Homo sapiens: one gene and its partner. The protein of the gene in region 2 purifies or fractionates together with the protein of the main gene of each other region. This does not show direct contact. Each region holds a gene or a part of one and is shown on either strand. Other genes may lie near its edges.

What was found. Proteins that work in one complex are often made in the same cells at the same time.
Region 1: the proteins of NUDT6 (region 2) and PM20D2 purify together in Homo sapiens (affinity purification with mass spectrometry; 2 studies listed by BioGRID and IntAct, with this or other methods). This does not show direct contact.

The regions. Positions count from the first base shown.
Region 1 is NC_000006.12:89,152,510-89,156,170, reverse strand, and holds part of PM20D2 (xaa-Arg dipeptidase), read right to left. Parts: intron 3,129-3,661; coding exon 2,986-3,128; exon of another isoform or gene 2,982-2,985; intron 1,424-2,981; coding exon 1,269-1,423; intron 1-1,268. UniProt on the Homo sapiens protein: Catalyzes the peptide bond hydrolysis in dipeptides having basic amino acids lysine, ornithine or arginine at C-terminus. Postulated to function in a metabolite repair mechanism by eliminating alternate dipeptide by-products formed during carnosine synthesis.
Region 2 is NC_000004.12:122,915,990-122,919,650, forward strand, and holds part of NUDT6 (nucleoside diphosphate-linked moiety X motif 6), read right to left. Parts: intron 1,716-3,661; coding exon 1,512-1,715; intron 1-1,511. UniProt on the Homo sapiens protein: May contribute to the regulation of cell proliferation.

The sequences.
Region 1 (3,661 bases), on a different chromosome or scaffold from region 2:
GGCTCACACCTGTAATTCCAGCACTTTGGGAGGCTGAGGTGGGTGGATCACAAGGTCAGGAGTTCGAGACCAGCCTGGCCAACATGATGAAACCTCGTCTCTACTAAAGATACAAAAAAATAGCTGGGTGTGGAGGCAGGCGCCTGTAATCCCAGCTACTCAGGAGGCTGAGGCAGGAGAATTGTTTGAACCTGGGAGGCAGAGGTTGCAGTGAGCTGAGATTGCGCCATTGCACTCCAGCCTGGGTGACAGGGCAAGACTCCGCCTCAAAAAAAAAAAAGAAAAAAAAAAATTAGCCAGGTGTGGTGGCAAGCGCCTGTAGTCCCAGCTACTTGGAAGGCTGAGGCATAAGAATCGCTTGAACCCAGGAGGCAGAGGAGGTTGCGTTGAGCCAAAATTGCACCACTGCGCTCCAGCCTGGGCAATAGAGCAAGACTTTGTCTCAAAAACAAACAAACAAACAGAAACAAATCAATAAAACCTCTTAACTAACTTCTGTGTCTATTTTATCTTCCATTCCAGCAAGCCATAGTATTTATATCACTACTATACACACCCTAACTTCAGAAATGGCTTTCGCTGGCTGGGCGAGGTGGTTCATGCCTATAATCCCAGCACTTTAGAAGGCCGAGGTGGGTGGATCACTTGAGCTCAGGAGTTTGAGACCAGCCTGGGCAACATGGTGAGACCCTGTCTCCAGAAAAACATACAAAAAATTAGCCACGTGTGGTGGTGCGTGCCTGTAGTCCCAGCTACTCAGCTGGCTGAGGTGGGAGGCAGAGGTGAGAGGATTGCTTCAGCCTGGAAGGCGGAGGTTGTAGTGAGCCAAGATCGTGCCGCTGCAACTCCAGCCTGGGCAATAGAGCAACACCCTGTCCCCCCACCAAAAAAAAAAAAAAAAAAAAAAAAAAAGCTTTTGCTGATTTTGCCATAAACTTTCCTTTATAGAAACTACATATAGCAATTCTAAAAGTATAACTGCCGACAAGGAAGAATATAACTTGTAAAAAGGCAGGGATTCTAGCATAGAAGTATCAGAATTATTCTAATTACTATATAAGTAAGATGACCTGTCATCTTCCCTATTGCAAGCACTGAGGAATGAAACGTGTAAAAATTAAAGACTTTCACATTAACTATTCAGCCAATTCATTTTGCATATTCAACATGTCACCAAATAAGAGAGTCAAGTTAGATTTCAATCTAACAGTGCTAGCCCACATATATACCTCTGATTGTAACTTAGATTAACTTTTAAAAGTTCTTACTGTGCACCCTGAAGCCAAAGCTGCAGCTCTGAAGCAATCTTCTGCCTTTTTGGTCAAAACTTGAAGTTCTTTCATTGAGGGTGCACGGAAGTAATAGATTAATTCAGAATAAGAGGGAATGATATTGGGTTTTACACCACCATTTTTTATTATACCTATAAAAAGAACCAAATTACTAGAATTAAGCTTGGTGACCATTTCTTTAAGCTTAAATACACCCATTAAGTTTTTCAGCCAATATGTTCATAAAGAAAAATAATTTAAACTCACTAGCTCCACCAATACACCAATCAAAGATTTTGTTATGTTGTACAACTGAAATTTCTTTACATAGGGTGATATTTTTTGGCTGATAAGAAAAAATAATTATCCATATGCACTTCATTCAGAAGAATTTACATAATGTTAAGAAATTATGATCCAGACTATAATGAAACTTAGAAATTATATAACCACAAAAAAAATTAGTAACATCTTAAGCTTTCTGGAAAAGATTTTACCATACCTCAACAATGGTATGAGGTTCTATAATTACCCTCATACCTCAGGAATCCCATGAGCATTTTAAATGGCATTTAGCTATAGGAAAAATAATTTTCATGCCAAGAAAAAAACCAATGCAGGTCAAAGATCACTAAGTATTATCAACTGTCAAAACAAATGTATTTATTTGGAATTATAAAGAATTAAGATTTATTCATTCGAAGTAATAACTAAAATAGATACAAAAAATCCAATGTCCTATGACCTACTTTAAAAAAATATTTCTACACATTCCTGTTTGTTCCTTTTAAAGAAACTAAAGCAGGAAAACTGGTAAAAGTACAATTACAAATTGACCTCAGGCTATAGCAAAATCAGGTAAAGAATAGATATTAAAATATAACAATTTCCTAAATCATAAGGAAATAAATTAAACAAATGTGTGCCTTCAAGACAGTACTTTGACTGTATTTATATTATGGTGATATATATATATAATTTTAAAAGACACTATTCAGGACCAGGCATGGTGGCTCACACCTGTAATCCCAGCACTTTGGGAGGCTGAGGTGGGCAGATCACTTAAGGCCAGGAGTTTGAGACCAGCCTGGCCAACATAGCAAGACCCCGTCTCTGCAAAAAATACAAATATTAGCTGGGTTTGGTGGTGTCTGCCTGCCTGTAATCCCAGCTATTTGGGAGGCTGAAGCAGGAGCATCACTTGAACCCAGGAAGCAGAAGTTGCAGTGAGCCGAGATTGCACCACTGCACTCCAGCCTGGGCAATAGAGCAAGACTGTCTCAAAAACAAAAAATCACACAAAAAGATATTACTCAGGACTAACAGCACTTAAATAAAACTAGCAGTTATTATACCTTTTTTTAATTGACAAAATTTGGTTATCATTAAGAAATAATGAGGACAACTGGAAAATCAAGATCCAATTTTCAAACACCCACCGAAAGAACACAGCCCCTTACATAAAACCTTTATCTTTGATACTCAAAGATGACATTCCATTTATGTACAATAATCAAAACTGTCTTTCTAACCCTATATAGACAAACATCTTAGTATCCTGTCACATGAATTTCTGAAAATATGCTTAAAAATCAGAATATTCATATGAAGTACAAAAATATTTCCAAATTTTTAAAAATTGAATATTAAATAATTATACTGCACTGAACTATAGCAAGCACCATCTATTATAGAAGGTATTTGACATTCATACCATGAACTCTCCAGGTTGGTTTCATTTGCTGTCTGAACACAGACAGATTGTTATAGGCCAGCACAGCAGCATCTAATGCATTTAATCCTTCCCAGGGATAAGAAGCAGAATGAGATGCTTTTCCATAGTATTTCACAGTCACACTAGGAAATAAAAAATCATTTGAAATTACTTTTGTTATTATTGCTAAAGTAAGAAAATCCAGGTAGTCAGAATTACCCAACTACTATTCAAAATTAATTCACATTGCTGGACTTTTGATTTGCAAATTATTTGTAGTAATAACACTGCAATTTATTTATGTTAGTTATAGTTTATTATTAGGTAACATAGTGCTTGACACAAAGAAAGCATTCCCAAAAAAGAGAGAAAAAGAGAAAAGATTAAATGTATACACAATCTAATGCAAACATGCAATATGGTATCAGGTGCTGAAATTACAAAAAAAAAAAATGGATCCTGTATGTTTTTACACAGCATTGTGATGATTCTATTATCAAAAGTCTGTAAAAAATCAGAAATTCTGTCTTAAGAGGTGGAAGGTCAGGAAAGCCAGAAAGGAGTTACTATTTGAAGTGGGTTAAGACAACCTCTGAAAATCAGATTATATTCAATGTTATCACAAGATACCCTAGTATTAAAGCAGTTGTTCCTGACCAATATCCAATATTTTATT
Region 2 (3,661 bases):
ATTAATTAAATAACTAATATGCTTCATTGCTTTCATTTATTAAGGTCATAAGGATCCCTTACTATTATAGTTTTTCTAGAAATCTAAGAATTTTGGTCCTTAAAGGGTAGTACTGAGACCACCACCAGCAGCAGCAGCAGCAGCAAAAACAGAAACAGCCAGGAAGATCACCTGAATTTTCAGGTCCCACCATAGACCTACTGAATCAGAAACTCTGGGGATAGGGCCCAGCAATCTGTTTTAAGATTCCAGGTGATTTTGATGCAATCTACAATGTGAGAATCTGTGTCTTACTCTGAGGGAAGTCTTCTCTCAACTTTCCTATGTCTCTGAAGCTAATCAGCCACTTCAAAATTCTACTCTACACTTAAATTACACGATTTTAAACAACTGTTTGGCACAATAATGTAAATATTATTAAGAAGTAATTGTTCAAATCATTGAAAAATTGGTTTGCTTTACCTGAAATTCAACATAAAAATGATCATTTACTTTACAAATTTACATAATTAGTGCCAACATGTTTTACTCTGCAATAAATTTATTCCCTGATCCCAATTCAGTGCTACTATTTGAGTAGTGAAGTTTAATTATATGTGTAAAATATATTCAAGCATATCCTTTGGAAAACTAAACACTAAAGTTGTTCTCTGTGCGTCTGTCTACTGATTGAGGCAAACTTCATCTATTTAAAAGCACTATGTAATAGTCCTATTTAAAAGCACTATGTAATAGATACTGTAGTCCCCCTTGTCCAGTTTTGCTTTCTGTGATTTCAGTTATACAAGGTCAACCATAGTCTCGAAGTGTTACATCACTACTCTTGTGCTTCGGGGCATTAATAAGGAAAATAAGGGTTATTTGAATCCAAGTACTGTGATACTGGGACAGCTGATCTGATAACAGGGAAGGCTACTAAGTAACTAATGGATAGGTAGCCTATGGATCATGGATACACTGGATATGGGGAAGATTCACGGCCTGGTGGGACAGAGCAGGATGGTGAGAGATTTCATCACATTACTCAGAACAGCATGCAATTTAAAACTTAAGAGTTTTTTTCTGGAATTTTCCATTTAGGTCATAATGCCTGTCATTCACCTCACTTCACCTCATCGTGCAGGTGAATACAAAAGGGTGAATACAAAACAATATTTTGAGAGAGACCACATTCACATAACTTTTATTACACTATACTTTTATAACTGTTCTAATTTATTGTTAGTTACTGTTAATCTCTTACTGTGCCTAACTTATAAGTTAAACTTTATCATAAATATGTGTGATAGGAAAAAACATGGTATATATACATAGGGTTTGGTACTATCTGCGGTTACAGGTGCCCACTGGGGGTCTTGGAACACATCCTGTGCAGATAGGGTGGAACCACCGTAATCATTTAATCAAATAACTCATTCCACATGAATAAACTATTTGCTTAGCTGTAACAAGCAAGAAATTGGGTGAACGTCTAAAAAGTTAATTCTGCTCATCATGAGTTTGAAACTGACCTGCAACTCCTACTTGATGTGAAGCATATCCTGGTAATCTGCTGGGCCCTTCTCTCAGCCACAGAGTCAACGTTGATGAATCCGATTCTGCGTGGTGAAAGCAGAAGCCCAGGGAAGCAGCAGGGGCAATAAATCGGCTTTGGAGGATGGGAATGTGCAGCCATACAGCTGTTCTACCTTCTGATCGCCATTGCTGTACTGCAGCTAAATGCAGAAGAAAAAAGTCTAAATAATTTCCAAAGAGACGAGTGGAATAAATTAAAACTCACCTCAGGGTTTCGCCTCCTCCAGGAAACCATCTTTAAGCAAAAGAGGTCCCCAAATGTCTTGTTCACATCGCTGGCACTGGAAGTACCATGTTTTATAGTAACCACCTTGTTTATATGATTTTTCCATCAGACTGAATTCCTTCAGAATAAAGTCATTACACTGCTGACCTTTATATCCATACCACCAAAGACAATGCTTGGCACGTAACAGATGTTCTGTAGTTTTAGAGTGGACAAATAAAAGGATTTAAACCGAATCAAATACCATTTGAATGCTGTTCCTTTTAACATCCTTAGGTTTAATCTTAAAGACAATTATGGACTTCTATTTTTTTCTTCCTTTAGGAGTTCTGTTATAATGTTTTTAATGTATAAATTTCAAGGTAGTTAAACTTTGTTTTTAAATAATGTATGCTGGTTGTAGAAATTTTGAAAATAAAAAATATGAAGAAATCAAACTTCACATTTTACTAGCATATAGGAATAAAATTCTAATTTTTCCTTATTATAGATAATATCATGGTGAACATAATTATAGGTTTTCTATCTTTGCCTTCTTTAAATTCTCTTTACTACTTAAGATTGAGCCAGGGGAAAAAGATGCTAATATCTATTTGAAACTTACTAAGTTCCAAGCACTTTATATATATTATCTCATTAAGTGCACAACCATGAAAGGTATTACTACCTTAAGTTTATGGGTGAAGAAATAAATACTTCAGATTTAGAGTTTTTAGAAAAGCTTTTCAGATCACTTTCTTCATCCATCATCTCACTTAATCTTTATAATAACGCTATAAAGCGTGTGTGTGTGTCTGTCTTTGGGGGTTGATTATATATCAAATAGTTAATTAACTTTCCCTTCTCTTTTCCCTAGCTCTGCAGGAAGCTCCTCTCTTTAAGGACAATGTTCTCTACCTCTTTGAAAGTTGCTGTGCCTAGCACAGTGACAGGCACATGGGGCCTTTAATAAAGACTTCCTGATTTGAGTTAGCATGCAGTGGAATTATGGGATCAGGTCCTTCTCACCTTGCTCTCTTTGTCTGATGACATCTTTTAAAAATTGAGGTAAAGTACATAAAGTGAAATGTACAAATCTTAAGTGTACATTTCATGCGATTTGACATATGCATATGCCCGTAACACACTTTAACATTATAGAACATTTCTATCACTCCATACATTTCACATGTGCTCCTTCCCAGGCAATCCTTCCAATCAAATTAAAAGGCTACTTTCTAAAAGCAATGCTATTTGCTTGCTGTTTTATATCTACACTCTGTGTCTTGGAGAATCCACTCTCACTGCTTCAGCTGATACATACATGAGGATGGCTGCCCAGCCCTGACCTCACTGAACACTAAACTTTCTGTTCTCCAGTTGCTCCCAGACATTTCCTGTCCTGAAGGTTACCACTTCAGACTTCACAAAGTGTGTTCAAAACTGAATCTTTTGTTGTTGTTGTTGAGACGGAGTCTTGCTCTGTCACCAGGATGGAGTGCAATGGTGCAATCTCGGCTCACTGCAACCTCTGCTTCCTAGGTTCAAGCGATTCTCCTGTCTCAGCCTCCCAAGTAGCTGGAATTACAGGTGCGTGCCACCATGCCCAGCTAAGTTTTGTATTTTTAGTAAAGACGGGGTTTCATCATATTGGCCAGGATGGTCTTGATCTCTTGACCTCGTGATCTGCCCGCCTCGGCCTCCCAAAGTGCTGGGATTATAGGCGTGACCCACCGCGCCTGGCCAAAACTGAATCTTACACCCCAAACTAGCTTCATTTATAAGCTTATTTATTTCTGGCACCAATGCTTGAAACCTTAGAATCATTTTTAAATTGCTTTCTTCTTTTCCCTAATAAGCTTTATTGCTTTTTCTTCCCTC